7 linked regions of the Homo sapiens genome follow. The protein of the gene in region 6 purifies or fractionates together with the protein of the main gene of each other region. This does not show direct contact. Each region holds a gene or a part of one and is shown on either strand. Other genes may lie near its edges. The genes, in order: HNRNPA1L2, GCN1, CMYA5, EIF5, FNBP1, BZW1 and SMC4.

Region 1 (4,089 bases), on a different chromosome or scaffold from region 6:
GGTGACCAGCCAGTGGCTCTCACCGTCCATTTAGACTAAAGGGATCAGTATTTTGGGCACACCCATAACCATTCATAGTACCTTAGTTGGGGAGCTCTGCCTTATGTCCTGGTATTTCTTAAGATTCCTTTCTTGGCTCTCTTCCCACTGCACATGCTTCTTTGACAATCTCATTTACTTCCATGGCTCAGTCACATCTGATATCCACGTCCAATCAATCATGCAGCCCAGGTAATTTACCTCCTCAAAAGCTTTTAATTTGTCATTTGTCTTCATGTTTCTACCTTAGTTTAAGTTACCATCATTTCTTACAAGGAATATGCAAACTTCTGAACAGGGTTTACAAGGACCAGCATGATCTGTCCCGATATTACATCTTGACTCTCTGTAGCCCTAACATAATCTAGTCATCAACTCCTGAATAAGACATGGCTGTCAGTACTTGGCCTCTCCACACCAAATCATTGACTCAAGATTGTTTATTAAAGAAGGACCTGTGATGCTGTTGTCATTGTCCTTAACCTGTAAACTTGCTGCCTTCCTCACTTTCCATTTATTCTTTAACCCTCTGTAGTATTGCATTTGACTTATTACCCTGAATTTGTTGTTACAAAGGTCACTAAGAGTAACCAATTTCCATATTGCTGAATCCCATCCTTCCTTCTCTTCCTGGACCTCTTGATCAATTGATAACCTTTCATAACTCACTTTTCCTCTAAACTCTCTATTGCCTTCAGTTTTGCCCAATCTGAAGTGCCCAACTGTCCTATCCTGCTTCTGTAATATTTTCCCCCTTTTACCATGTAAAAAATAATTTCCTGATGTTCCCTTTGGGTTGCTCCAGAGACTTTTTCAAAGATTGGAGTTCTCCCAAGTTTTGTCTAAAGGTCACTGTTCTTATTCTCTGTTTTCAACTTGTCCGCTTCCAATCTGTTCTCCCCAGTGCAATAGGAGTGTCAGTCTAATTATGTCAAGCCTTCAGTGGTTTTTTAAATCTTTTCAGATGGAGTTGAGGCCCTATGTGGTCTCACCTCTTCTTTATCTCACCAGCCTTATGATCAAATTCTGCACTCCCAGACATAATAGCAATTAGAATAAGAATGTTTTCAATTGCAAGAAGCAAACAGAAAAACCCAACTCAAAATTATTAAATAATACAAAACAAAAAGTCAGGAGTTTGGAGGCTTCTGGGTTGGTTAACTCAGGAGCTCACTGGTATCACTGATGAACTAGGTTTCTCCATCCTTATGCTTTCACTTTCCTTGGGATATTGGTTTGGTCTTCCAGGATGGCTATTGCTAAAGGTAGCTGCAGTAATTTATTCTGTGTTTCTGTTTATCAATAAGGAGACCTTTCCCAGAATCCCTGAGCAGACACCTCATGCATGGCCCAATTGGCTAGATTAGTTATATACCCCTTCTTAAACCATATTGTTTGCCAATATGGCCAACAATGTGGGGTTGGTGATCCCAACAATGTGGGATGTGGGATTACCACAAATGACTTAGTCATGTGCTGGAGAAACAAAATTAGGGCTTCACAGCAAGGAAGAAGGGAGGAATGAAGTATCCTACTGTTATGTATACTTGTCTTTCTTCCTGTACATACACTAAAAAATGTTCAGGCCCATATGAAAAATGTATTTATTTCCCAAAGAGAATCAGCCAGAATCTCATCCAAATACTCTATCCAGCTTCATATCTAAGATCTCTGGTGGACTTTTTCTGCCCGTGGACGCCGCTGAAGAAGCATCGTTAAAGTCTCTCTTCACCTTGCCGTCATGTCTAAGTCAGCGTCTCCAAAAGAGCCCGAACAGCTGAGGAAGCTCTTCATTGGAGGGTTGAGCTTTGAAACAACTGATGAGAGCCTGAGGAGCCATTTTGAGCAATGGGGAACGCTCACAGACTGTGTGGTAATGAGAGATCCAAACACCAAGCGCTCCAGGGGCTTTGGGTTTGTCACATATGCCACTGTGGAGGAGGTGGATGCAGCTATGAATACAACGCCACACAAGGTGGATGGAAGAGTTGTGGAACCAAAGAGAGCTGTCTCCAGAGAAGATTCTCAAAGACCAGGTGCCCACTTAACTGTGAAAAAGATATTTGTTGGTGGCATTAAAGAAGACACTGAAGAACATCACCTAAGAGATTATTTTGAACAGTATGGAAAAATTGAAGTAATTGAAATCATGACTGACCGAGGCAGTGGCAAGAAAAGGGGCTTTGCCTTTGTAACCTTTGACGACCATGACTCCGTGGATAAGATTGTCATTCAGAAATACCATACTGTGAAGGGCCACAACTGTGAAGTTAGAAAAGCCCTGCCAAAGCAAGAGATGGCTAGTGCTTCATCCAGCCAAAGAGGTCGAAGGGGTTCTGGAAACTTTGGTGGTGGTCGTGGAGATGGTTTCGGTGGGAATGACAACTTTGGTCGTGGAGGAAACTTCAGTGGTCGTGGTGGCTTTGGTGGCAGCTGTGGTGGTGGTGGATATGGTGGCAGTGGGGATGGCTATAATGGATTTGGTAATGATGGAAGCAATTTTGGAGGTGGTGGAAGCTACAATGATTTTGGCAATTACAACAATCAGTCTTCAAATTTTGGACCCATGAAGGGAGGAAATTTTGGAGGCAGAAGCTCTGGCCCCTATGGCGGTGGAGGCCAATACTTTGCAAAACCACAAAACCAAGGTGGCTATGGCGTTTCCAGCAGCAGCAGTAGCTATGGCAGTGGCAGAAGATTTTAATTAGGAAACAAAGCTTAGCAGGAGAGGAGAGCCAGAGAAGTGACAGGGAAGCTACAGGTTACAACAGATTTGTGAACTCAGCCAAGCACAGTGGTGGCAGGGCCTAGCTGCTACAAAGAAGACATGTTTTAGACAAATACTCATGTGTATGGGCAAAAAACTCGAGGACTGTATTTGTGACTAATTGTATAACAGGTTATTTTAGTTTCTGTTCTGTGGAAAGTGTAAAGCATTCCAACAAAGTGTTTTAATGTAGATTTTTTTTTTTGCACCCATGCTGTTGATTGCTAAATGTAATAGTCTGATTGTGACGCTGAATAAATGTCTCTAAAAAAAAAAAAGATCTTTGGTGGAATCCGTAGGCTGCTTTTTCATCTGGTGGCTGTGGCTCTCTGGTGTTTTGTCCTCAACAGCCACATCTAATATGAGCACTGGGAAGAAGACTCTTTCTAAGGCTGCTCAGCTTTAGAGTACATTTCTTGATGGTGTGAGCTTGGTGTCCTGTCTCAGAGTCACTAGTTTCCCAGCCCGAAACAGTTGTGTCTCAATGCCCTCCATCCTGCCTTTTCCACCCGGCCAATTACACACCATTCTAGGTCTGTTTTGTAGCACTCCACTTCCAAATACCAAATTGTCTATCAGTTTGGATTCTTAGTCGTAAGCAACAGAGATGGATTCTGGTTTTCAGCATAAGATAAATTGTATTAGAAGAATATTGTGCTGCTTGCAGAATGGCCAAAAGGACTAGAGAATCAGCATCAGTCTGAGCCACACGGCTGGGAATAAATCCTGGAACCATACTGCATAACTGGTCGGGTGAGGAGATTGTAGCCACTGTTGCCAAGCACTGACACACTGCTTTGTAACACTATCTGCTGCTTTGGGAATTTGATCTTGACACATGTGCTACTGCATCTGGAGAGGATACACTAAGGTCCTTCCTTGATTTGTTGTTGCTAACCAGTTACCAATTTTAAAGTATGTGCAAGTTCAGCTTAAGTTGTTTGGCATTTTCAGCTTTTATAGAGGGAGACTGGCTCAGTGGGAAGACTCAAGGAATTCCCCAGACATAAGAAGGAGCTGAATTCTAAGTAACCCAAAAGAAAGACCTACTTAAGGACAAATCCAGGTTTTGTGGGGCCAAAATTTACACAATTTGTTGGGGTTGTGGGAGTGGGGAGGGGATTTATTTAGGAAAAATACGTACAAAATTATATTAACAAATTAGATAGGGTTTGAAGGGGCTTTTGCAAATAAACACCCCTGAAGCTGTACTTTCCAAATCACTCCGCTAGATCTGATTTCAAGCCCACTCTGCTCAGCACAGGTTATCTCATGCTGGTTAC
Region 2 (4,904 bases), on a different chromosome or scaffold from region 6:
TAAATTTTTTTTTTGTAGAGATATTGCACAAGCTGGTCTCAAATTCCTGGCCTCAAGGAATCCTGCCTCAGCCTCCCAAAGTGCTAGGATTACAGGCTTGAGCCACCATGTGCCTGGCCCTTAATTTTGAGGTTTATAGTGCCATATGCTAGAAACGAAAGCCATGGTAAAACCAGAGCTTTGTATTTAGGTGTTGATGTTTGGGTATCTAAATGAAGCTACCAATCAAACATCCTATACAGTTTTCTAGACACAGTTGTAACTATTACACTAGAATTACTGTTTCTATGGCTGCTGCATACTTGGAGTAGGTTTAGTGTCAGCTGAGATAGGCACCTGGTGGATGCTGGGGCCAGTCCCCTAGAGTAAAGTTTTTCAAACTGGGTGGTGCTCCAACTCGGTGGTAACCAATTTATATTTTCGAGATAGTCTCAAATATATTTGAGACTGGGGTGCAGTGGCTTGGACTTGGCTCACTGCAACCTCCGCCTCCTGGGTTCAAGTGATTCTCCTGCCTCAGCCTCCCAAGTAGCTGCAATTACCGGAGGCTGCCACCACACCGGGCTAATTTTTTTGTTGTTGAGACAGTCTCGTCCTGTCACCCAGACTGGAGTGCAATGGTATGGTCTCAGCTCACTGCAACCTCTGCCTCTCGGGTTCAAGCGGTTCTCCCACCTCAGCCTCCCCAGTAGCTGGGACTACAGGCATGTGCCACCACTCGGCTAATTTTTGTACTTTTAGTAGAGACGGGGTTTCACTATGTTGGCCAGGCTGGTCTGGAACTCCTGACCTTGTGATCTGCCCGCCCTGTCCTCCCGAAGCGCTGGAATTATACAAGGGTGAGCCACCGCACCCGGCCTTTTTTTTTTTTTTTTTTTTTTTTGGTATTTTTAGTAGAGACAAGGTTTTGTCATGTTGACCAGGCTGGTCTGGAAATCCTAACATCAGGTTGATCTACCCACCTCAGCCTCCCAAAGTGCTGGGATTACAGGCGTGAGCCACCATGCCTGGCCCCAGTATTTAAAGAGAAAGCAGCATCTGCTGAGAATAGGTGTTTTTGTTGTGATTCCTGTATTTCACTTAGAGATCTGTCTGCTGGAACATGATATATTCATTCTAACTAGGTCTGTGTCAAAGGTTTGAAAGCCACTGCTAACAGGGCTGACAACTAAGCTGTGGAGACCCTGTTCCCTAAATTGCAGCCACGTCTGCACGTAGCCTCTTGCCCTGTGGCCTTCAAAACTCCCAGCCTGGGGCGTCCAGCATTTCCCCAGGGCAGGGGCCTCGTTCAGTTCTGAACCTTCCCTGACCTCCGTATCCAGCCACGTTTGCTAACCCTGTACAAGTCATCCGCCAACTGAACTACAAACTGAGGACAAAAGACTAGTTCACCGACTCTTTTACCTAGTTTTTAGTTCCTGCTATCTAGGAAGCAACACTTGTTTTTCTAAAGAACTTAGTCATCACTCAGGAAAGGCCCACGTAGGGCTGGCCCTGCGGGCTGGAAGTGGGTCAGGGGCTGCAAGGCGGGCCCATAGCGTTACACCGCGGGCTCACCACGTTACAAGCGCTAGTCTCCCACGAGGCGCCCGGGGCTGAAGAGCGGGCCCTGGGGAGGAGGCCTTGTGGCTCGGGCGCGGGCCAACTTTAAGCCCGTGATCCGGCTGCCCGGGCTGCAGCGGCCGCCGTCCTGCCCGGGGGCACCAAGCCCGGGGCCCTGCCCCCGCTGGCTCCCGGCCTCGCCCTGCCGCGTGGGCCACGCTGTGACCCGGAAGCGTTCCGGAAGCGGTTCCGGAGTCAGCCCCGGCAGGATGGCGGCGGACACGCAGGTGAGGCGGGCGGCTGCGGGGCCAACGCGGCCAGGGACTGGGTGCGGACGGTGGCCGTCGGGCGGGGCCCCTCTCGCTCCTCGGCTTAGGGGCGTTGGAGGTGGTGGCTGTGGAGGTCGTAGTCTCGGGGCCGTCTCAGGCTGGACTCTCAGGGCTGCGGGCTTGGCCCGGCCCGGGCGGCGCAGGCAGACCGCGGGCTCGAGGAGTCCGGGGCTCCCGCCTCGACTTCAGCAGCTGGAGCTCGGCGGGGCCTTTGCCCGACCCCAGAGTTGCAGAAGTTCACTTTACCGAGCCTCTACTTCTTTTCTCCAAAGCCCTCCGGCTGTGAGCCCCGGGCCAACGCCAAGTCTTCCTTAAACTTTGTATTCAGCAAATATTCTTTGAGCACCTACTATGAGCAGGGACTTTGAGTGTAGTCTTTGGATTCATACAGATCTGGGCTTGAGTTCCTGCTCGTCGATTTCTGTGACATGCCAAACAAGTGACTTAACCCCGCCAAGTCTGCCTTTTCATCTATAAAATGAAGTTAAAACAATACTTATCTTAAAAGGTTGTTGTGAAGGTTCAGTGAGATAAAATACGGCTTGATATATGTTGGTTGTTATCAGATCCAGGGTTAGTGAAAAGAACTGTCCTGTCCAGGAAGAGTGTTACCTATGGGTACCTTGTAGTTCAGGAAGGACCTGGGAAAACCTTTTCCTCCACCCAGTTGTTATGTTTTAAGGTGAAAAGACATTGTCATGAGGCAGGGGAAGAACAGGTGTCTAAGGACAGCTGGGCTGATTTGGTGTCTCCAGGGTGATGGGATTGATTTTTATGTGTAGGCCCAGAAAATGACCACTTAAGCATTCAAAAAGACATTTACTGAGACTCCTATGCAGGTGGCTGATGTTCAAGTTATGTTGTACTGAATACTAGAAAGAAAAGCTTAGTATGAGAGGGTTAGGGGAATACATGCTGAATGTTTAACATTGATACTCACTTGAGGGAAAAATCTCTAGAGCTGCAATGTCCAGTATGGCAGCCACATGGCTTAAGTTTGTTAAAATTAAATTAAATAAAAAAATTCATTGTTTGGCTGGGCGTGGTGGCTCACCCTGTAATCCCAGCACTTTGGGAGGCCAAGGCGGGTGGATCAGTTGAGGTCAGGAGTTTGAGACTAGTCTGACCAACGTGGCAAAACCCCGTCTCTACTAAAAATGCAAAAAATTAACCGGGTATGGTGGCATGTCTGTAATTCCAGCTACTCAGGAGGCTGAGGCATGAGAATCGCTTGAACCTGGGAGGCAGAGGTTGCAGTGAGCTGAGATCGCACCACTGCGCTCCAGCCTGAGCAACAAGAGTGGGACTCTGTCTCAAAAAAAAAAAAAATTTAGTTCTTCACTTGTACCAGCCACATTTCAGTGCACAGTTAGCCACATGTAGCCAGTGGCTACCGTATTGGGTGGTGCAGGAGAATATTTCTGTATTTTATAATTTTTGTATTTTTAGTAGAGATGGGGTTTCTCCATGTTGGCCAGGCTGGTCTCGAATTCCTGACCTCAGGTGATCCTTCTGCCTTGGCCTCCCAAAGTGCTGGGATTACAGGCGTGAGCCACCGCACCTGGCCTGAAATTATTTTTTATTATTTTATTTTATTTTTTGAGACGGAGTTTCTCTCTTGTTGCCCAGGCTGGAGTGCAATGGCACGATCTGAACTCACTGCAACCTCTGCCTCCCAGGTTCAAGCAATTCTCCTGCCTCAGCTTCCCGAGTAGCTGGGATTACAGGCATGCGCCACCATGCCCGGCTAGTTTTTGTAGAGACAGGGTTTCACCATGTTGGGTAGGCTGGTCTCGAACTTCTGACCTCAAGCAATCTGTCCGCCTCTGTCTCCCAAAGTGCTGGGATTACAGGCGTGAACCACCATGCCCGGCCTTGTCTTCAGTATTCTTTTTTTTTTTTTTTCGAGACGGAGTCTCGCTCTGTCGCCCAGGCTAGAGTGCAGTGGCACAATCTTGGCTCACTACAACCTCTGCCTCCCGGGTTCAAGCGATTCTTCTGCCTCAGCCTCCCAAGTAGCTGGGATTACAGGCACCCGGCACCACGCCCAGCTAATTTTTTTTTTTGTATTTTTAGTAGAGACGCGGTTTCACCATGTTGGCCAGGATGGTCTCGATCTCCTGACCTTGTGATCTGCCTGCCTTGGCCTCCCAAAGTGCTGGGATTACAGGCGTGAGCCACTGCACCCAGCCTTGTCTTCAGTATTCTAAAGGAAAATGATTTCAACCTAGAATTCTGTATTTGGCCAGAACATTTTCATACTTGCAAGGAGTTTACAAAATGGAGGCTGTGCTTCACCCAAACACAAGAAAGTACATGTTCAGGGTGATAAACTGTGCCCCAGCTGTAGAGGATCACATGCCTAATTGGGGCAGGTCAGAAAACTCTGGGAGAGATTTCCTTAGGAAGGTGGAATTTGATGGAATACCTGATCTCCCTAAATGTACTGAGATTTAGACAAATGGCAAAAAGTTTGGGTTTTAATTATTTATAAGAACAGATAAAACAAGTCAAACTGAAGTGAGGTGGGAAAGGGTAATTATTAACACCAGGGGCATAAAAAAGCTGGGAAGAATCAGAGTTTATTAAATGGATGTTGAATGCCATTTACATATAATGTAATCACTGACTACTGACCTAGCCTGTATGTGAAACTGGGGACTTCCACTGGGGAAATGGGGAGGGTGTGCGATGGGGTCACAGCAGGAAAGGGAGCTGTGGTGGAAAGGTAGCAAAACTGAAAAATCAAGAAGCACATGCAAGTTACCTCCATATTTAGAGATACTTAGATATATGGAGGTAACTACCCAAATATCCACCAGATCAACCTAAGGGTTGCCCATGGAGAGTGAGGGCAAGGGACTGGTTTTTATGGCAGACTTCTCAGAACTCTTTGGTTTTGACTCTGTGTGCATCTATGACTATAAAAACAAAAGACATTTTAAAGTTAAAACTACATTATTTATGTAGAAGACAGTTTTGGACATCAGTTTCTTTTATTCATTGCCAATAGAATTATGGCAGGGATTTAAG
Region 3 (4,298 bases), on a different chromosome or scaffold from region 6:
TCCAGCTGTGGCCCCTGCTTCTGAGCCCTCTCTCTCACCATCCACAACCGAAAAGACTTCTGAATGCCAGTCACCACTGCCTTCTACTGCCACATCAGAACACGTGGTCCCATCAGAAGGAGAGGACCTAGGAAGTGAACGTTTCACACCGGATTCAAAGTTGATCTCCAAATATGCAGCCCCACTCAATGCAACACAGGAATCTCAAAAGAAAATAATCAATGAGGCATCCCAATTCAAACCAAAAGGTATTTCTGAGCACACAGTTCTGTCAGTAGACGGCAAGGAGGTCATTGGACCATCTTCCCCAGATTTGGTTGTTGCATCTGAACACTCTTTCCCACCACACACAACCGAGATGACTTCTGAATGCCAGGCCCCACCACTTTCAGCCACCCCATCTGAATATGTTGTTCTATCAGACGAAGAGGCAGTCGAGTTGGAACGATACACACCCTCTTCTACATCTGCTTCTGAATTTTCAGTACCACCATATGCAACACCGGAGGCACAGGAGGAAGAAATTGTCCATAGATCTCTAAATCTAAAAGGTGCATCCTCACCCATGAATTTATCAGAAGAAGATCAAGAAGACATTGGACCTTTTTCTCCAGATTCTGCATTTGTGTCAGAATTCTCATTTCCACCGTATGCAACCCAGGAAGCAGAGAAAAGAGAATTTGAGTGCGATTCTCCAATATGTTTAACATCACCATCTGAGCACACTATTTTGTCAGATGAAGACACTGAAGAAGCGGAACTGTTCTCTCCAGACTCAGCATCACAAGTTTCAATCCCTCCCTTTAGAATCTCAGAAACAGAGAAAAATGAACTTGAGCCTGATTCACTATTAACTGCAGTGTCTGCTTCAGGTTATTCCTGCTTTTCAGAAGCAGATGAGGAAGACATTGGATCCACAGCTGCTACACCTGTATCTGAGCAGTTCAGTTCATCACAGAAGCAAAAAGCTGAAACTTTCCCTTTGATGTCTCCGCTTGAAGACTTAAGTCTGCCGCCTTCAACAGATAAATCAGAGAAAGCAGAAATTAAGCCAGAGATTCCAACAACCTCAACATCTGTATCTGAATATCTCATTTTGGCACAGAAGCAGAAAACTCAAGCATATTTAGAGCCTGAGTCTGAAGACTTGATTCCTTCACATTTAACCAGTGAAGTGGAGAAGGGAGAAAGGGAGGCAAGTTCATCAGTAGCTGCAATACCTGCTGCTTTACCTGCACAATCATCTATAGTAAAGGAAGAAACCAAACCTGCATCTCCACATTCAGTTTTACCTGATTCAGTCCCTGCAATCAAGAAAGAACAGGAACCCACAGCAGCACTCACTCTAAAAGCTGCAGATGAACAGATGGCTTTGTCAAAAGTCAGAAAGGAAGAAATTGTGCCTGATTCTCAAGAAGCTACAGCACATGTATCACAGGATCAAAAAATGGAGCCTCAGCCTCCAAATGTTCCAGAGTCTGAGATGAAATATTCAGTTTTGCCTGACATGGTAGATGAGCCAAAGAAGGGTGTCAAGCCCAAATTAGTTCTAAATGTGACTTCTGAACTAGAACAGAGAAAGTTGTCCAAGAATGAGCCTGAAGTAATAAAACCATATTCACCTCTAAAGGAAACATCTTTATCTGGACCTGAGGCTTTATCAGCAGTGAAAATGGAGATGAAACATGATTCCAAAATAACAACTACACCTATAGTGCTTCATTCAGCTTCCTCAGGAGTGGAAAAGCAAGTTGAACATGGTCCACCTGCACTAGCATTTTCAGCTTTGTCAGAAGAAATTAAAAAAGAAATTGAACCCAGTTCCTCAACAACTACAGCATCTGTAACTAAGCTTGATTCAAACTTAACCAGAGCAGTAAAAGAAGAAATCCCAACAGATTCATCTCTTATCACTCCTGTAGATCGTCCAGTCTTAACAAAAGTAGGAAAGGGTGAATTAGGAAGTGGTTTGCCACCACTGGTAACATCTGCAGATGAACATTCAGTTCTTGCAGAAGAAGACAAGGTGGCAATTAAAGGTGCTTCTCCCATTGAAACTTCATCCAAACATTTAGCTTGGTCAGAAGCAGAGAAGGAAATTAAATTTGATTCACTTCCAAGTGTCTCCTCTATAGCAGAGCATTCTGTTTTGTCAGAAGTAGAAGCCAAAGAAGTTAAAGCTGGGTTGCCAGTAATCAAAACATCATCTTCTCAGCATTCAGATAAATCTGAGGAAGCAAGGGTAGAAGACAAACAAGATCTTTTATTTTCTACAGTCTGTGACTCTGAACGTTTGGTTTCATCACAGAAGAAGAGCTTGATGTCTACCTCAGAGGTGTTAGAGCCTGAACATGAGCTTCCACTCAGCCTATGGGGTGAGATAAAGAAGAAAGAAACTGAACTTCCTTCATCACAAAATGTGTCACCTGCATCCAAACATATAATCCCAAAAGGCAAAGATGAGGAAACAGCAAGTTCATCTCCTGAGTTGGAAAATTTAGCATCAGGTTTAGCCCCAACATTACTGCTCCTCAGTGATGATAAGAACAAACCGGCAGTGGAGGTATCTTCTACAGCTCAGGGAGACTTCCCATCAGAAAAACAAGATGTTGCTTTGGCAGAGCTGTCTTTGGAACCTGAGAAGAAAGACAAGCCACACCAACCGTTGGAATTACCAAATGCTGGGTCAGAATTTTCTAGTGATTTAGGTAGACAAAGTGGATCCATAGGTACAAAACAAGCAAAGTCTCCCATAACTGAAACAGAGGATTCTGTTTTAGAAAAAGGCCCAGCTGAGCTTAGGAGCAGAGAAGGAAAAGAAGAAAATAGAGAGCTTTGTGCATCTTCTACGATGCCTGCAATTTCAGAGCTTTCATCATTGCTTAGGGAGGAATCTCAGAATGAAGAAATTAAACCTTTCTCTCCCAAGATCATCAGCCTAGAGTCGAAAGAACCACCTGCCTCTGTAGCTGAAGGAGGCAACCCAGAAGAATTTCAGCCATTTACTTTTTCTTTAAAAGGATTATCAGAGGAGGTTAGCCATCCAGCCGACTTTAAAAAGGGAGGAAATCAAGAAATAGGCCCATTACCACCAACTGGAAATTTGAAGGCACAAGTCATGGGAGATATTTTAGATAAGCTAAGTGAAGAAACAGGCCACCCAAATTCATCCCAGGTACTCCAGAGTATAACAGAACCATCAAAGATTGCTCCTTCTGACCTCCTTGTAGAACAAAAAAAGACAGAAAAAGCACTTCATTCAGATCAAACTGTTAAATTACCTGATGTAAGCACCTCTTCTGAAGATAAACAAGATCTGGGTATTAAGCAGTTTTCACTTATGAGAGAGAATTTGCCTTTGGAACAATCAAAATCATTTATGACAACCAAGCCTGCGGATGTCAAAGAAACAAAAATGGAAGAATTCTTTATTTCTCCAAAGGATGAAAACTGGATGTTGGGAAAGCCAGAAAATGTGGCTAGTCAACACGAACAGAGAATAGCAGGATCTGTGCAGCTGGATTCCTCTAGCAGCAATGAGCTGAGGCCAGGGCAGCTCAAGGCTGCTGTGTCCAGTAAGGACCATACATGTGAAGTGAGAAAGCAGGTCCTGCCGCATTCTGCTGAAGAATCTCATTTGTCATCACAAGAAGCAGTATCTGCTCTTGATACTTCCAGTGGTAATACAGAGACCTTATCAAGTAAAAGTTACTCTTCTGAAGAAGTAAAGCTGGCTGAAGAACCAAAGTCTTTAGTCCTAGCTGGAAATGTAGAGAGAAACATAGCAGAGGGGAAGGAGATTCATTCTTTGATGGAGAGTGAAAGTTTGCTATTGGAGAAAGCAAACACAGAGCTTTCCTGGCCTTCCAAAGAAGATAGCCAGGAAAAAATTAAACTACCTCCTGAAAGATTCTTCCAGAAACCAGTGTCTGGCCTATCAGTGGAACAGGTGAAGTCAGAAACAATCTCCTCTTCTGTCAAAACAGCCCATTTCCCGGCAGAAGGTGTGGAACCTGCATTGGGCAATGAAAAAGAAGCACACAGGAGCACACCTCCTTTTCCTGAAGAGAAGCCATTGGAAGAATCAAAAATGGTTCAGTCAAAGGTTATTGATGATGCTGATGAGGGAAAGAAACCATCACCTGAAGTAAAAATACCCACACAAAGAAAACCCATCTCCTCAATCCATGCAAGAGAGCCTCAATCCCCAGAGTCACCTGAGGTGACACAAAATCCACCTACACAACCAAAGGTGGCTAAGCCGGACCTTCCTGAGGAAAAGGGAAAGAAAGGAATTT
Region 4 (4,298 bases), on a different chromosome or scaffold from region 6:
TGTCGAAAGAAAAAGCCATATACCTGCTTCTGTGATACCGCTAAGTCACCTTCCTGAGAAGGCAGAGCAAATGTAATTTTAAATCAAACACAAAACTCCAGTTTTCGAGATATTTCCATTCTTTTTTTTAAAGTAGGTCACTGTGTGAAAAAAGTTTTCTTTGCATGTGAAGCTGTCTGTGGTTTAGATGTCCTCTGATTAGATATTTTCATGTTATATTATGGATAACATTTGTTATTTTTTTGGCAGCATGTCAATCCAAAGAAGCAAACAATAGGTAATTCTTGTAAAGCCTGTGGCTATCGAGGCATGCTTGACACACATCATAAACTCTGCACATTCATTCTCAAAAACCCACCTGGTGAGTCTTCCATGATGAACTCCTAAGATCCTAAGATAAGTTACTAACTGTTGGGAACAAAATAGAAGGTTTTTTTGTAATAGGAATGTAAGGGAGACTGGGCACGGTGGCTCATGCTTGTATTCCCCGCATTTTGGGAGGCCAGGGCGGGCACATCACTTGAGGCCAGGAGTTCAAGACCAGCCTGGCCAACATAGTGAAACCCGTCTACTAAAAACACAAAAACTAGCTTAGCATGGTGGTGTGCTCCTGTAATCCCAGCTACTCCGGTAGCTGAGGCATGAGCGTCGCTTGAACCTTGGAGGCAGAGGTTGCACTGAGCTGAGATCGTGCCACTGCACTCCAGCTTGGGCAACAGCGACTCTGTCTCAAAAAAACAATATAAGGAACCTTTTAGTCCTTGTACTATATTTTATCAAATCTAAGACATCTTTCAAAAGTGTATTGTTAATTACCATTAAAGGTGAAAAATAGGCTGCCAATTAAACTGTGCCATATCAATTAAGACATTATCTGAGGGTAGATGAAGTAATGACTAAAATTCTGCTGGAAACCCAGCAAAGTTTCTTTTACTGGCATTGTTTGGTAAAGAGGGCCCCCTTCATTAAACTTGAATATTGCAAGCAACACTCTGTGGCAGATGATCAAAACTGTCTGACACAATTTGAGCTTGCTATAGCAAGAAAGTCTAACCTATTCCGGTGTTCTCTCTCCCATGAGACAAGCCGTTATATAGACTTAAACAGTGTTCCACCTGTTGGCTAAAGCTGGGTTGAGTTAATGACTTTGTTCATGAGGGATGACAGGGATCCTTAGGGCCACCTCTCCCTAGTGGAGGCATCATCACTTCATCTTACTCTTTCTTAGCAGTTACAATACCCCTAATATTTTGTGTCACTCCATTCTTAGACTAACATTCTTACGTATGAAATACATGATGAATTTGATCTGTGAAGCCTCTTAGGTAGCATTGTGTGTGCTGTGTGGTTTTTCTGAGGGGATCCATAGGAAAATAAGGGCAGGGTTTTAAACGTTAATGATGGGCAATGAGGTAATGTAAGTTATGGGGTTAAATTTTTATTTCCCTTTTTTTCTGTAGAGAATAGTGACAGTGGTACAGGAAAGAAAGAAAAAGAAAAGAAAAACAGAAAGGGCAAAGACAAGGAAAATGGCTCCGTATCCAGCAGTGAGACACCACCACCACCACCACCACCAAATGAAATTAATCCTCCTCCACATACAATGGTGAGTGCAGGGTTGATGGCCTAGTGGGCACTAAAGTTGTGTAAAGTATATGGCATTTGGTTGAGGTGGGTGGAAATGTTGAAACTAGCCTTCAGTGTGTAATACACTAATATTGTGGATTCCAAGTACTGTTTGTTGTTTGAATTAAGGTGAACCCAATTTTGGATGGAGATGGACTTGATGCCATTAACTTGGCAAAATCTGAACCTTTTTGTTGTTGTTTTTAAGGCCTTTGATCAAGTAGCTCTGTTTTCATAAACAGGAAGAAGAGGAGGATGATGACTGGGGAGAAGATACAACTGAGGAAGCTCAAAGGCGTCGAATGGATGAAATCAGTGACCATGCAAAAGTTCTGACACTCAGTGATGATTTGGAAAGAACAATTGAGGAGAGGGTCAATATCCTCTTTGATTTTGTTAAGGTAAAACATTTGCTTGGTCTGTAAATCAGCTTCAACCCAGCCTTGTTTGTGCCTTTAGATATATGATACTTTAGCAGTGTAATTAGGATTACTCTAATGCACGACTTTTTAGAACTCTTGTTCATTTAAATATTTTTTGCGCGTGATTCCAGGCACTATGTGTCACAACTGCCAAATTAGGCAGGAAAAATATGTTCATCAGAGCAGGGACTGGCTGGTGTCTTGAGCCTGGCAAAGTGTGCCTCCATTGCACTGAATTGTTTTCCTTTTCTTTGCAGAAAAAGAAAGAAGAGGGTGTTATTGATTCATCTGACAAAGAAATCGTTGCTGAAGCAGAAAGACTGGATGTAAAAGCCATGGGCCCTCTTGTTCTAACTGAAGTTCTTTTTAATGAGAAGATTAGAGAACAGATTAAGAAATACAGGCGCCATTTCCTACGAGTAAGCAAAGTGCTCTGGATTCATAAATGAGATTACAGTTGTGTGGCTTTCGAGATGGTCATATTAACCACTTTTGCTTGTCCTGTCATGCTTGAAAGTGGGGAAATTGACCCACCTTACAAGCCTCTGAGTATCTGAAAGTGCCATACCTAGGCCCTTACAAAGTAACAGGGATGTTTATGCATTGACCTTTTTGAACAACTATGGTATGGGCCATGCACTTGCAGACACTCTTATTTGGGTAATAGAGTTGTCAACTTAGAACACATAAAAAAGATTGTTAACACCAAGGTGTCTATTTGCAGTTTTGTCACAACAACAAAAAAGCCCAACGGTACCTTCTTCATGGTTTGGAGTGTGTGGTAGCAATGCATCAAGCTCAGCTTATCTCCAAGATTCCACATATCTTGAAGGAGATGTACGATGCAGACCTTTTAGAAGAAGAGGTCATCATCAGCTGGTCGGAAAAGGTGGGGAATACATAGGTGGGCTCTTAAAGTTCACAGGTTTTGGGGGGTTTTTTTGTTTGGTTGATTGTTTTTGGAGACGGAGTCTCATTCTGTTGTCCAGGCAGGAGTACAGTGGTATGATCTCAGCTCCCTGAAACCTCCACGTCCCGGCTTCAAGTGATTCTCCTGCCTCAGCCTCCCAAGTAGCTGGGATTACAGGCACCTGCGATCATGCCCAGCTAATTTTTGTATTTTTAGTAGATGGGGTTTTACCATGTTGGCCAGGTTGGTCTCGAACACCTGACCTCAGGTGATCCACTGGCCTCCCAAAGTGCTGAGGTTACAGGTGTGAGCTCCTGCGCCCAGCCGTTCACAAGTATTGAGACGGCTTTGAGATGAAGAAAAAATGTCTTAATATCTATAGCTAAAGTTCAGTGCCTGTGCTGTAGATTGTGATTCGCATCATGTCAGATTTGTAGTCATAACAGACTGCTGAGACTAACGTGTTCACTGAGTACATTGATTCTGTTTGAGGATTCAGACTTGTTAGGACCCAGTCCCCTCAGCTCAGTAAGGGGGATTGTATAAATAATCAAAAGTTGTTAAAATTCCTCAACTAAGAGACTTGTACTCACATTTTTTAGGCCTCTAAGAAATATGTCTCCAAAGAACTTGCCAAAGAGATTCGTGTCAAAGCAGAACCATTTATAAAATGGTTGAAGGAGGCAGAGGAAGAATCTTCTGGTGGCGAAGAAGAAGATGAAGATGAGAACATTGAGGTAAACATTGGGGGAGGAGGGTATTGGATACAGTGCTGGCATGGGTGTTTGAGATTTAAAAAGGTTTGTGAGGAGTGATATAATGGCAGTTTGGGGTAATTTCAGGTTTAGAATTTAAGATGCAGTAAAATACAGCCTCTCAATAATTTGGAAAATAATAGAAAGGGTGATGGAAACTGTGTTCCTACTCCTACACATTATAGTCTATAAAAAAACTTTAAAAATGCTCTTAGACTGGAGCCTGTGTAAGAGAACTTGCAGTGTTTGCATAACAGAGCTGTTCCGTGAAGAAGAAATAGCTGCATCTAGGCAGTTTCCTCCTCTGTGACCACAATTTACATTGATTTGTTTTATAAACAGATTTATCAGCTTATGTTGAATAAAATCATTCCTCTTAACAGGTGGTGTATTCGAAGGCTGCCAGTGTACCGAAAGTTGAGACTGTAAAGTCAGACAACAAGGATGACGACATCGATATTGATGCCATTTAAAGGGATGGATGCAACCTAGCTTAACAGTATAATGCTGCAAATTTTCCTCCATTATCAGCCAGAAGTGCAACATGTATGTGCAAAAGCTAAAATGGCTTAACATCATGCTACA
Region 5 (4,298 bases), on a different chromosome or scaffold from region 6:
ACTGAGTCACTGCTTTAAGCATGGCTGTACCTTCAGGTATCACAGGGCGACCTCATGGTCAAGAAGGAACTAGAAGTGACTTATCCAAGACTGCACTGCTGCTTAAAAGCCCAAGGGGATAGCATAGTCCAGTGTGCTTTCTGCCCCATCGTGGGCAACCACATAAATATGAGTTTGTTTCTATGTCTCCAACTTCGGGTGAAATGGAAGCAACCGTCCTTCAGTACATTTGAACAGTCGAAGGCAGAAAACGTGGCCATTCTGCCCCCACGTGGACTTCCTCACATTGGGTTAAATGGCCAAGAGTAGCCCCTGAGTTTGGGACCTTAGGATGCTCCGGGCTGGCCCTCAGATGGCCTTTGGGACCTTAGGACACTCTGGGCTGACCCTCAGATGGCCTTAGGTTGGAGTCTCTCATTGCTTTTGTCTCCAGGCCTGGCTGGCTGAGGTTGAAGGCCGGCTCCCAGCACGCAGCGAGCAGGCGCGCCGGCAGAGCGGACTGTACGACAGCCAGAACCCACCCACAGTCAACAACTGCGCCCAGGACCGTGAGAGGTACAGTATCTGCACAGCGCCTGCCTCTGGCAAGGGAGCCTGTTGGCTTTGTATTTATTTCTAAATTTTGGAATCTGGAATGACCATAAGGCACTTGTTCAATGCCAAAATGTCTGTTGCGATTGACCTGTCACTTTTTCCATGATGCAGATTTATAATTCCACATGGGATGGGTGATCTGAGCGTGCGATGATTTACCATGGCCTCAGTTACAGCACTCGCTGAGGGGCGGGGTTGCAAGTGCTCTCCAGTCGCAGGGACTCAATCTGAGTCCTCCCTGGGGTCAGTCGCTTTAGTTGCTTTGTGTTTTCCTTTCTTGAGCAGCCCAGATGGCAGTTACACAGAGGAGCAGAGTCAGGAGAGTGAGATGAAGGTGCTGGCCACGGATTTTGACGACGAGTTTGATGATGAGGAGCCCCTCCCTGCCATAGGGACGTGCAAAGCTCTCTACACATTTGAAGGTGACATTTCATGTCTGCTGGATTCCCCTGCCTTTTATAAACCATAATATCTGAGTTACTCTTCTTTCACTTTTCCTTCCTTCCTTCCTTCTGATCATTTTTATTCCTTTGTCCTTCCTTCCTTCCTTCCTACCTTCCCTTCCCCTTCCCCTTCCCCTTCCCCTTCCTTCCTTCCCTTCCCTTCCCTCCCTTCCCTTCCTTCCCTTCCTTCCCTTCCTTCCTTCCTTCCTTTTTTTCATACAGGGTCTCGCTCTCTTGCCCAAGTTAGAGTGCAGTGGTGCAATCATGGCTCACTGCAGCCTTGACCTCCTGGGCTCAAGTGATCCTCCAACCTCAGCCTCCTGAGTAGCTGGGACTACAGGCAAGCACCACCATGTCCGGCTCATTTTTGTACTTTTGTACTTTTTGTACTTTTCAGTAGAGACAGGGTCTCACTATGTTGCCCAGGCTGGTGTTGAACTCCTGGATTCAAGCAGTACTCCTGCCTCAGCCTCCCAAAGTGCTGTGATCACAGGTGTGAGCCACTGTGCCTAGCCACACTCTTCTCTTTCTGTGACCAGAACTTTCTTTAGAAGCCTTCCAGATCTGGCCGGGCATGGTGGCTCACACCTGTAATCCTAGAACTTTGGGAGGCTGAGGCGGGCAGGTCACTTGAGGCCAGGAGTTCAAGACCAGCCTCGCCAACATGGTGAAATCCCATCTCTACTAAAAATACAAAAACTGGCTGGGCATGCTGGCAGGCGCCTGTAATCCCAGCTGCTCGGGAGGCTGAGGCACGAGAATCACTTGAACCCGGGAGGCGGAGGTTGCAGTGAGCTGAGATAGCGCCACTGTACTCCAGCCTGGGTGACAGAACGAGACTCTGTCTCAAAAAAAAAAAAAAAGCTGCAGCAGCAGCCTTCCAGATCCTTCTCTACTATGCTTTTATCCTACTCATGGTATGATTATTATTTGGTTGTATATTTTGACTTTTGGTTCGTATAACTTAACAGCTTCCAGAGAGCTTGCTTCACTGCAGCAGACGATAGGGAGGATGATCATTTCATCCATTCATTTAATATCTAGTATCTATAGCGCTCCTGTCTTGTAAAGGCCCATGAAGTGGGGGGATGCAGGTCGTATGATATGGCACCTGCCCAGAGGGAAATCAGGCAGACACACTTAAGGAGCAAGCAGCGGCTGGGTGCAGTGGCTCACGCCTGTAATCCCAGCACTTTGGGAGGCCGAGGCAGGCGGATCGTGAGGTCAGGAGATCGAGACCATCCTGGCCAACATGGTGAAACCCCATCTCTACTAAAAATACAAAAATCAGCTAAGCGTGGTAGCGCATGCCTGTAATTCCAGCTACTTGGGAGGCTGAAGCAGGAGACTCACTTAAACCAGGAGTCGGAGGTGGCAGTGAGCCGAGGTCGTGCCACTTTACTCCAGCCTGGCAACAGAGCAAGACTCCCTCTCAAAAAAAAAAAGCAGGCAGTTTGCAGTGTTTGCCAGAAGAGGGATACAGAGGAACGGGGAGGACAGGGGAGAATGAGGTCGCTTCCTTAAGGAAGTTTGGAGAACTTGCCATGGCATGGGGGGTGTGGCCAGAAATGGGTGTGGTGTGGCTGGAGCTTAGATGTCTTAAGTCCTAATAGTGAAATGTGGCACTAAAGAGTGGGAAGTGCCAATGGGGGCGAGGTAGGGAAACATCTGGGTTTTATGTGGCAAACATTGAGGAGCTATGGGAGGTCCCCTAGCAGGGTGTCGATGCAGTCAGAGCTGTACCTTAGGAAAGTCATCGTCAGATGTGTAGGATCCACTGGAAGACATGGAGGATGGTTAGAAAGACTAGCCCAGGCCGGGCATGGTGGCTCACGCCTGTAATCCTAGAACTTTGGGAGGCTGAGGCAGGCAGATCACCTGAGGTCAGGAGTTCTAGACCAGCCTGCCCAACATGATGAAACCCCGTCTCTACTAAAAATACAAAAATCAGTGAGGCGTGGTGGCGGGCGCCTGTAATCCCAGCTACTCGGGAGGCTGAAGCATGAGAATTGCTTGAACCCAGGAGGCAGAGGTTGCAGTGAGCCAAGATCGTGCCATTGTACTCCAGTATGGGCAACAGAGGGCAACTCTGTCTCAAAAAAAAGAAAGAAAAGATAAACTAGCTTAGTGTTTCTAAACCAATGAACCTTGAAACGATGTCCTGCAGAGCGTTAATAAGGAGGCCATGAAAGAAGCTCTCAGGCCAGGCTCAGTGGCTCACACCTGTAATCCCAGCACTTTGGGAGGCTGAGGCCAAGAGTTCAGGGCTACAGTGAGCTATGATCGTACCACTGCACTCCAGCCTAGGCGATAGTGTGAAACCCTCTCTAAAAAATAAATAAATAAATAAATAAAATTACGAAAAAGTTGCATTTTAATATAATGAATAAATTTTTAAAACTAGCAATCAGAGCTCAAGTAAGTTTGGGAAGCCCTGGGATAAATAAATTTTACAGATTTCTTTACTACAGGACTTTTCAGAGCCTTTAATAGACTAAATGTTCATTGTGACAAAATAAGAAAGACGTACCAGTTTAAACGTTCCCAGTTTTACTTCATATTCCAACCATCCCCCACCGTACCCTGTTGCCCTGTTAACAGCTCCCTAAACTCTTTGCCTTGCAGAAAACTGGGGGGTGGTGGGCAGCCTTTGAAATGATCCTAGCAGAAGGTCTTGGGGGCCTTGTTCAAGGAATGGATACAGAGATGCCGCCATTGACAAACTGCATATATTCGGGGCTGATCAAAAGCCAGGAACAAAAAGGAGAGGAAATCCAAGACGGCTCCCAGAGTTGCATTCCTGGGAGGACAGAGAGGTCTAGGGAAGTGGAAAAGCAGGAGGATATAGTTAGGAGGAAGAACAGTGAATCCAGGTTCATCTATGTTGTTTCAGGTGTTGGGGCCATGTCTAGGTGGCAGTGTGCTGCAGACAGTGGGAAAAGTGGAATCTTGGCTGCAGAAAGTACCAGAATGGAAGCAATATGTGAGGACAGTGTTTAAAGAGGAGCAGTTGGGCCGGGCGTGGTGGCTCACGCCTGTAATCCCAGCGCTTTGGGAGGCCGAGGCGGGTGGATCACCTGAGGTCAGGAGTTCAAGACCAGCCTGACCAACATGGTGAAACCTCGTCTCTACTAAAAATACAAAATTAGCCGGGCGTGGTGGCACATGCCTGTAATCTCAGCTACTCGGGAGGCCGAGGCAGGAGAATCACTTGAACCCGGGACAAGTGGCATCACACTCCAGCCTGGGCAACAGAGCAAG
Region 6 (4,298 bases):
TCTGTTAATTAAGCTATTTTCTTTTACAGGAGTTTCAGCAGCTTTTGCTGTGAAGCTCTTTAAATCATGGATAAATGAAAAAGATATCAATGCAGTAGCTGCAAGTCTTCGGAAAGTCAGCATGGATAACAGACTGATGGTTGGTAACTTTTTTTCATTCTTCCCATTCTTGCCAAGGATGTAAATGAGAGAAATTTCTCATTTTTAAGACTGTGAAAAGAAAGTGTTTTTCTTAATCTGATTTAAAGAAAGTTTAACCAGATAAATTCTTCTTTTAGGAACTCTTTCCTGCCAATAAGCAAAGTGTTGAACACTTCACAAAATATTTTACTGAGGCAGGCTTGAAAGAGCTTTCAGAATATGTTCGGAATCAGCAAACCATCGGAGCTCGTAAGGAGCTCCAGAAAGAACTTCAAGAACAGATGTCCCGTGGTGATCCATTTAAGGATGTAAGTTTTTGTTTAAACCGTCTTTTTATGGCTAAGCTTCTGGCATAGAGATTTTCACTAATTTGAGGAACTTACTTCACCAGGATGAGATTGAGTTAATAGTAACAGGATGTTATACTGGAACTTTGCCTCATTCTTTTGCATATGCTTCTTCAGTGCCTGACTGAGGCCCAGAAATACAAGAGACTGGAGCTCAGGGCACCTTTCAGTTGTAAAGGTCTCTTTTTATATGTGGTACACATGTGGTTGCCAGTTGCATGGAAAAGGAGTTGTTAGTTTTTGTTAAAGGTCTAAACTTGATGTGTGAAGTATGTACATAATCAAAACTGACTTCTGTTACTAAATTTGGATTCATTTGCAGATAATTTTATATGTCAAGGAGGAGATGAAAAAAAACAACATCCCAGAGCCAGTTGTCATCGGAATAGTCTGGTCAAGTGTAATGAGCACTGTGGAATGGAACAAAAAAGAGGAGCTTGTAGCAGAGCAAGCCATCAAGCACTTGAAGGTATTAGAACTATGCCTTGACAAAACAAACTATTCTGCTTTCACGTGGTGATAAGTGAACTGTGACTATATTTTTCTAAGAGGATTTATCACATCCTGTGGTTCCTAGGGATGGCCCACCAGTAAATAAACAAATAGTAACATTAGCTATTGATGATAATGCTCTGAATTGGGCTGTGGTTCACAGGTTAAAAACAAGAATATGGCCTGGCCAGGCACAATGGCTCACGCCTGTAAACCCAGCACTTTGGGAGGCAAGGGCAGGAGGATTGCTTGAGCTCAGTTTAAGACGTGCCTGGGCAACATAGTGAGACCTCATCTCTACTAAAAATCACAAAAAATAGCCAGTCGTGGTGGCGCATGCCTGTAGTCCCAACTACTCAGGAGGCTGAGGCAGAGGATCTCTTGAGCCCTGGAGATCAAGACTGCAGTGAGCTTATGATGGCTTTGTCAGACAAAGCCTGGGTGACAGGGTGAGATCCTGCCTCAAAAAAAAGAACATGATGAAAAGGAACTTCAGCTTGTAATTAGATGTTTGCTTTTGAAGGGGGTATTGGAAAATAGGAATTTTTCCCCCCCTCTAAAATACTAATATTGTTTGACATTTACTTGGACTACTTGGTATAGTATTGTTTATTTTACTTAGCTACTTAGATTTTCTGCTTTTTTTTTTTTCTCTTGAGACAGTCTCACTCTGTCACCCAGGCTGGAGTGCAGTGATGTGATCTCAGCTCACTGCAGCCTCCATCTCCTGGGTTCAAGCAGTTCTGCCTCCTCGGCCTCCCAAGTAGTGCCTGGCTAATTTTTGTATTTTTAGTAGAGACGAGCTTTTACCATATTGGCCAGGCTGGTCTCGAACTCCTGACCTCAAGTGATCCACCCGCCTCGGCCTCCCAAAGTGCTGGGATTACAGACGTGAGCCACTGTGCCCAGCCTATTTTTTAAATTTCTGGTAAATAAGTTATAGTTTGCAGTGATTATAAAAGATGAGTTAAGTTCTATATTGTCTGTATTGTAGGAGTTTTGTAATGGATGGTTATTTGTAATGAATGACTAAATCTTTTCTCTGTTCCTTTAAAAGCAATACAGCCCTCTACTTGCTGCCTTTACTACTCAAGGTCAGTCTGAGCTGACTCTGTTACTGAAGATTCAGGAGTATTGCTATGACAACATTCATTTCATGAAAGCCTTCCAGAAAATAGTGGTGCTTTTTTATAAAGGTAATTTAGATTTTGAATTTTGTAAATAACACTTAATAAAAACCCTTATAAACACAAAATTATCCAAATGATGAGTTATCTGGACATCAGCTCCCTGAAATATTTTACTTCTAGTTATGAGTCACCTCTGATTAAATTGGGTGCTTTTTAGTGCACTGATACTTGTTTAAAACATCTAAACCCTATTCACAAGTTGAAGTATGAAATCTAAAGCCATCATTATGCGTCCTCAAACTTGCCTCCTATACTCTTAACCAGGTATACATTCCCAAAGTTCAGCTAGGTGTGGTGGCTCATACTTGTGACCCCAACACTTTGGGAGCCTGAGGCTGGAGGATCGCTTGAGCCCAAGAGTTCAAGACCGGCCTGGACTGCATAAGGAGACCTCATCTCTACAAAAAAAATAAAAAATTAGGCAGGGAATGGTGGCGCAAGCCTGTAGTCCCAGCAACTCAGAAGGCTGAGGTAGGAGGATCACTTGAGCCTAGGAGGTCAAGGCTGCAGTGAACCATGATTGTGCCACTGCACTCCAGCAGCCTAGGCAACAAGTGAGACCCTGTTTCAAAAAAAAAAAATCCCCAAGTCCCTTTTCCAGACAGTCTGTAGTCTTAGCTATGTAGTCATAGCTCTGGAGTCTTCAGCCTGTGTGAATCCTGCTTCTGTTCATCTTACTCCCCCACCCAGTGTTGACTTTCCGTAGTCCTTCAAGACCAGTTCAGAGTGCTTCTATAGCAACCCCAATTTCAGTTATATTGTTCCCTTTTCTCCTGATCCCAATTTTAGAAACCTGGTCTAAAGTGGCTAGTAAAGACAAGACCTCTGTTGGGAGAAAATCCATTGCAGTTGGTCATAACACTTTGAAATTCTGCACTAATCAGACCAGTCTTGATCCCGTTGAGTGTAGTTGGTATGCGCACATGTATTATTATCTTCCATTTCTCATGGATGTTTTTAGCTTTTCAGCAGTTTGTTTGCTAAGCAGGCATTTGCACATTAGGTGGTGGTTCTAACGCTGAGTAGAGTATATTAAAACTCCCTTAATGCAATGAGTTTTCTTTCCAGCTGAAGTCCTGAGCGAGGAGCCCATTTTGAAGTGGTATAAAGATGCACATGTTGCAAAGGGGAAGAGTGTTTTCCTTGAGCAAATGAAAAAGTTTGTAGAATGGCTCAAAAATGCTGAAGAAGGTAAGGATTTTCCTTTGTGTGGTTTGTTTGGTAAAGCTAATTTTAATGTGGCCATAATATATCTTCACACATGCTTCCTTCTTTCTGATGCCATTTTGTACCTGGAGTAGAGATTTTTGTTATAAGGCAGGTGGCGAAAGCTAGAGTTTAATTATTATAGTATATTTATGGCTCAGCCATAATAGTAAATGTTCTTCATGAAATGGAAAATTTTGAGAATATTTAATGTTTATAAATTTGTGGATTTCTTTTCTTTTTTTTTTTAATTAAAAATATAGAGACAGAGTCTCACTATGTTGCCGATGCTGGTCTTGAACTCCTGGGCTCAAACAACCTTCCTGCCTCAGCCTCACAAAGTACAGGGATTGCAGATGTGATTGCACCCAGCCAAATGTTGGGATTTCCAAGTGAATGCTTTTGAATATCTGCCTCATGTAAATAGGTTATTAATAAAATTCGTTAACAGCTTCAAAGTTACATGGAGGCTGGGTGTGGTGGCTCACGCCTGTAATCCTAGCACTTTGGGAGGCTGAGGCGATCAGGTCATTTGAGGCCAGGAGTATGAGGCCAGCCTGGACAACATGGGAAACCCAGTCTCTACTAAAAATAAAAAATTAGCCAGTTTTGGTGGTGGGCGCCTGTAGTTCCAGCTACTTGGGAAACTGAAGTGGGAGGATCACTTGAACCCGGGAGGCAGAGGTTGCAGTGAGCCAAGAGGGTGCTGCTGCATTCCGGCCTGTGGGACAGAGGGAGACTCTGTCTTAAAGAAGCTTCAAAGTTATAAATGGGAACTTTTGCCTTCTGATACATAATGTTTGACTGTTTTTTTCCCCTTTTCTAGAATCTGAATCTGAAGCTGAAGAAGGTGACTGAATTTTGAAACTACACCCTCAGTAAAGCAAACAGGAGTTGTAGATAAAATGTCATGTCTCATGTG
Region 7 (2,402 bases), on a different chromosome or scaffold from region 6:
TCCAACTTTTCTTAGGTGGTCGAACACTGAAATGATTAAGAAAATCATAGTCAAATTACCTGTAAAGCTAAAGTTAAGACTTTGTGATTTGCTTTCCATAATTGAGTTCTACTATCTTTTTTAGGAATCTGTAACTTGCTTTTCACAAATATGAATTCTCTTTTCTGTTATTTTATAAAAACGTTATTGGAGGATGCATACATAGGAGCACATACCAAAGTTTTAAGATTTAAAGAGCAAGCTAAGTATTATACTTCTTGCTATTCTTTCTCCTTATCAAATACAATTTCTCAATCCTCATGTTAAAAATGCCTTGAAAATTTAAGAAAAGATGAACTAGACAAATATTTTGTAAATACTGGCTGTCTGCCCCTGTAAACTGCAAGCATAAATAGCATGCAAGCAAATTAGTATTTACTAGTAAATGAAACAAGTTGTACATCTTGCCTTCACATCCTACCTCCAAGAAATACTGAGTTTGGAGAATATGTAGAAAAAGGTAACAGTGGGATTATAAACTCAGCATAATTACACACCTGAACATGATTCCTTCAGAGAAAGGATCCAAGCTGTCTACAAGCTCGAGTTCGGCGTCCCCTCCCAAAGTAAGCATTTGGTAATTTTCCTTTAATTTATTTGTTATTATATAAAAACCTGCCATAAATTCATTAAGCCTTTGTTTCCGAAGATCTTCATATGCCTGTCTAAAACTGTCTCTTTCATAAGTAATTTTGTCCAATTCTGCTACCCGTTGCAAATACAATTCTTCCTGTGAAAAGATTATGATAGGGAAAATCTATTCAGATAAATTTGATATGATAATTAGCATTGTTAATTATTACTTTGTTTTGAGACGTAGTCTTGCCCTGACGCCCAGGCTGGAGTGCAATGGCGCGATCTCGGCTCACGGCAACCTCCACCTCCCAGGTTCAAGCGATTCTCCTGCCTCAGCCTCCCGAGTACCCGGGATTACAGGCACGTGCCACAACGCCTGGCTAATTTTTTGTATCTTTAATAGAGATGAGGTTTCACTATGTTGGCCCAGCTGGTCTCGAACTCCTGACCTTGTGATCCACCCGCCTTTGGCCTCCCAAAGTGCTGGGATTACAGGCGTGAGCCACCACGCCCGGCCAACAGCATTGTTAATTATACAAAACTAAAGATCAGAATTTAGGCTAAGGACTAAAAAGAACTCCAACTAGTATACATACACAGTTCATTCATACCTTCTTTTTATACTCTGCGATGGCACCGAGGTTTGGTTTCATTTCATGACACCGGGCTTCCAAAAGTGCAATTTGATTTGTTATAGAATCTGGATTCTTGATCGCTTCAAGATCCTCTGGGCTTAGAACCGAAATCTCTTCAATAGGATTATCTTCTATAGGATGCAGTGATATTTTTGAAATCTAAAAGTTCAATTTAGGGGAGAGTTAGAGAAGGCATAATATTACATACAATTCATTGTTTAAAAAAAAATATGACAAATTACACAGCTATGAAAACAACAGGAGTTGTGACTGATTTATCAATTATTTTTCAAAGGACTTCAAGAAAAATAGTTGTAACACTCAAAAGTGTCCATGTAATCTTTTCTTAAATGTCCAGATCAGCCCTAGGGTGAAAGGGTAGTTGTCTAATTCTAATCGTTACTCAGACTTTTCTGTATATAACAATTTATATTGTTATGTCCCCTATAAACCTTAGAAGTGATCACAGAATTAAAAATCACAATGTAGCTCACAAACAAAATTTAAGAACCCCAACCCCCTAAAACAATCCTCCCCAAACCCTCCTTTTTCATAAAGAATATGTTTAAAATTAAACTAAACGGTAACAATCTCACCTCTTTGTGCCAATATTTTATTTTAGAATTATGTTCAGCAATGTGACCATCTATTTGTTCAAGTTTCAACTTAATACTAAGTGCATCTTTTTGAAGAGCATGTTCATTTTCTTGAATAACTTTTAATTCTTGAAGCAGATTGCGATGTTCTTTCTGGATCTCTGGTAAGGATTCCTAAACACCGAAAAGAACTGCTAGATAGAATTTTCCAAATAGAGCCATCATTTTCACATTACAGAGATGAAGGAATTACCAATCTCTCCTCATGCCCCTTCCATTTTAAAATAATTTAAGCATTTAAATTCACAAATTATAGTATTCTTATTGTACAAATAAAAATTGATAGTTATAAAACTTTAAGTCTATGAGTGCTTACTACATTCTAGGCACTGTCATATATCCAGCTCTTTAAATTGGTTCCAGTATCATCCCATCTCCTCTTCAATACAAAGCAACTCATACCTCTGCAGCATTTGTATTCTTTACGACCTCTGCTGCTTTGTCCTCAAGACTTTTCAGCTCTGCTGTTAGGTCATCCACCTCTTTCTCAGTATCT

The links.
Region 1: the proteins of BZW1 (region 6) and HNRNPA1L2 fractionate together in Homo sapiens (co-fractionation; one large-scale study listed by BioGRID). This does not show direct contact.
Region 2: the proteins of BZW1 (region 6) and GCN1 fractionate together in Homo sapiens (co-fractionation; one large-scale study listed by BioGRID). This does not show direct contact.
Region 3: the proteins of BZW1 (region 6) and CMYA5 purify together in Homo sapiens (affinity purification with mass spectrometry; one large-scale study listed by BioGRID and IntAct). This does not show direct contact.
Region 4: the proteins of BZW1 (region 6) and EIF5 fractionate together in Homo sapiens (co-fractionation; one large-scale study listed by BioGRID). This does not show direct contact.
Region 5: the proteins of BZW1 (region 6) and FNBP1 fractionate together in Homo sapiens (co-fractionation; one large-scale study listed by BioGRID). This does not show direct contact.
Region 7: the proteins of BZW1 (region 6) and SMC4 fractionate together in Homo sapiens (co-fractionation; one large-scale study listed by BioGRID). This does not show direct contact.

Annotation. Positions count from the first base shown.
Region 1 is NC_000013.11:52,640,713-52,644,801, forward strand, and holds HNRNPA1L2 (heterogeneous nuclear ribonucleoprotein A1-like 2), read left to right. Parts: upstream 1-1,718; 5' UTR 1,719-1,780; coding exon 1,781-2,743; 3' UTR 2,744-3,061; downstream 3,062-4,089. UniProt on the Homo sapiens protein: Involved in the packaging of pre-mRNA into hnRNP particles, transport of poly(A) mRNA from the nucleus to the cytoplasm and may modulate splice site selection.
Region 2 is NC_000012.12:120,191,605-120,196,508, reverse strand, and holds the start of GCN1 (stalled ribosome sensor GCN1), read left to right. Parts: upstream 1-1,793; 5' UTR 1,794-1,811; coding exon 1,812-1,829; intron 1,830-4,904. UniProt on the Homo sapiens protein: Ribosome collision sensor that plays a key role in the RNF14-RNF25 translation quality control pathway, a pathway that takes place when a ribosome has stalled during translation, and which promotes ubiquitination and degradation of translation factors on stalled ribosomes.
Region 3 is NC_000005.10:79,730,994-79,735,291, forward strand, and holds part of CMYA5 (cardiomyopathy-associated protein 5), read left to right. Parts: coding exon 1-4,298. UniProt on the Homo sapiens protein: May serve as an anchoring protein that mediates the subcellular compartmentation of protein kinase A (PKA) via binding to PRKAR2A. May function as a repressor of calcineurin-mediated transcriptional activity.
Region 4 is NC_000014.9:103,336,867-103,341,164, forward strand, and holds part of EIF5 (eukaryotic translation initiation factor 5), read left to right. Parts: intron 1-249; coding exon 250-361; intron 362-982; exon of another isoform or gene 983-1,108; intron 1,109-1,460; coding exon 1,461-1,606; intron 1,607-1,868; coding exon 1,869-2,027; intron 2,028-2,305; coding exon 2,306-2,467; intron 2,468-2,772; coding exon 2,773-2,937; intron 2,938-3,560; coding exon 3,561-3,695; intron 3,696-4,096; coding exon 4,097-4,186; 3' UTR 4,187-4,298.
Region 5 is NC_000009.12:129,896,683-129,900,980, reverse strand, and holds part of FNBP1 (formin-binding protein 1), read left to right. Parts: intron 1-433; coding exon 434-555; intron 556-876; coding exon of another isoform or gene 877-879; coding exon 880-1,016; intron 1,017-4,298. UniProt on the Homo sapiens protein: May act as a link between RND2 signaling and regulation of the actin cytoskeleton. Required to coordinate membrane tubulation with reorganization of the actin cytoskeleton during the late stage of clathrin-mediated endocytosis.
Region 6 is NC_000002.12:200,817,945-200,822,242, forward strand, and holds part of BZW1 (eIF5-mimic protein 2), read left to right. Parts: intron 1-29; coding exon 30-139; intron 140-278; coding exon 279-449; intron 450-810; coding exon 811-957; intron 958-2,037; coding exon 2,038-2,176; intron 2,177-3,238; coding exon 3,239-3,361; intron 3,362-4,202; coding exon 4,203-4,234; 3' UTR 4,235-4,298. UniProt on the Homo sapiens protein: Translation initiation regulator which represses repeat-associated non-AUG (RAN) initiated translation probably by acting as a competitive inhibitor of eukaryotic translation initiation factor 5 (EIF5) function.
Region 7 is NC_000003.12:160,430,650-160,433,051, reverse strand, and holds part of SMC4 (structural maintenance of chromosomes protein 4), read right to left. Parts: coding exon 2,309-2,402; intron 2,021-2,308; coding exon 1,847-2,020; intron 1,410-1,846; coding exon 1,227-1,409; intron 770-1,226; coding exon 537-769; intron 27-536; coding exon 1-26. UniProt on the Homo sapiens protein: Central component of the condensin complex, a complex required for conversion of interphase chromatin into mitotic-like condense chromosomes.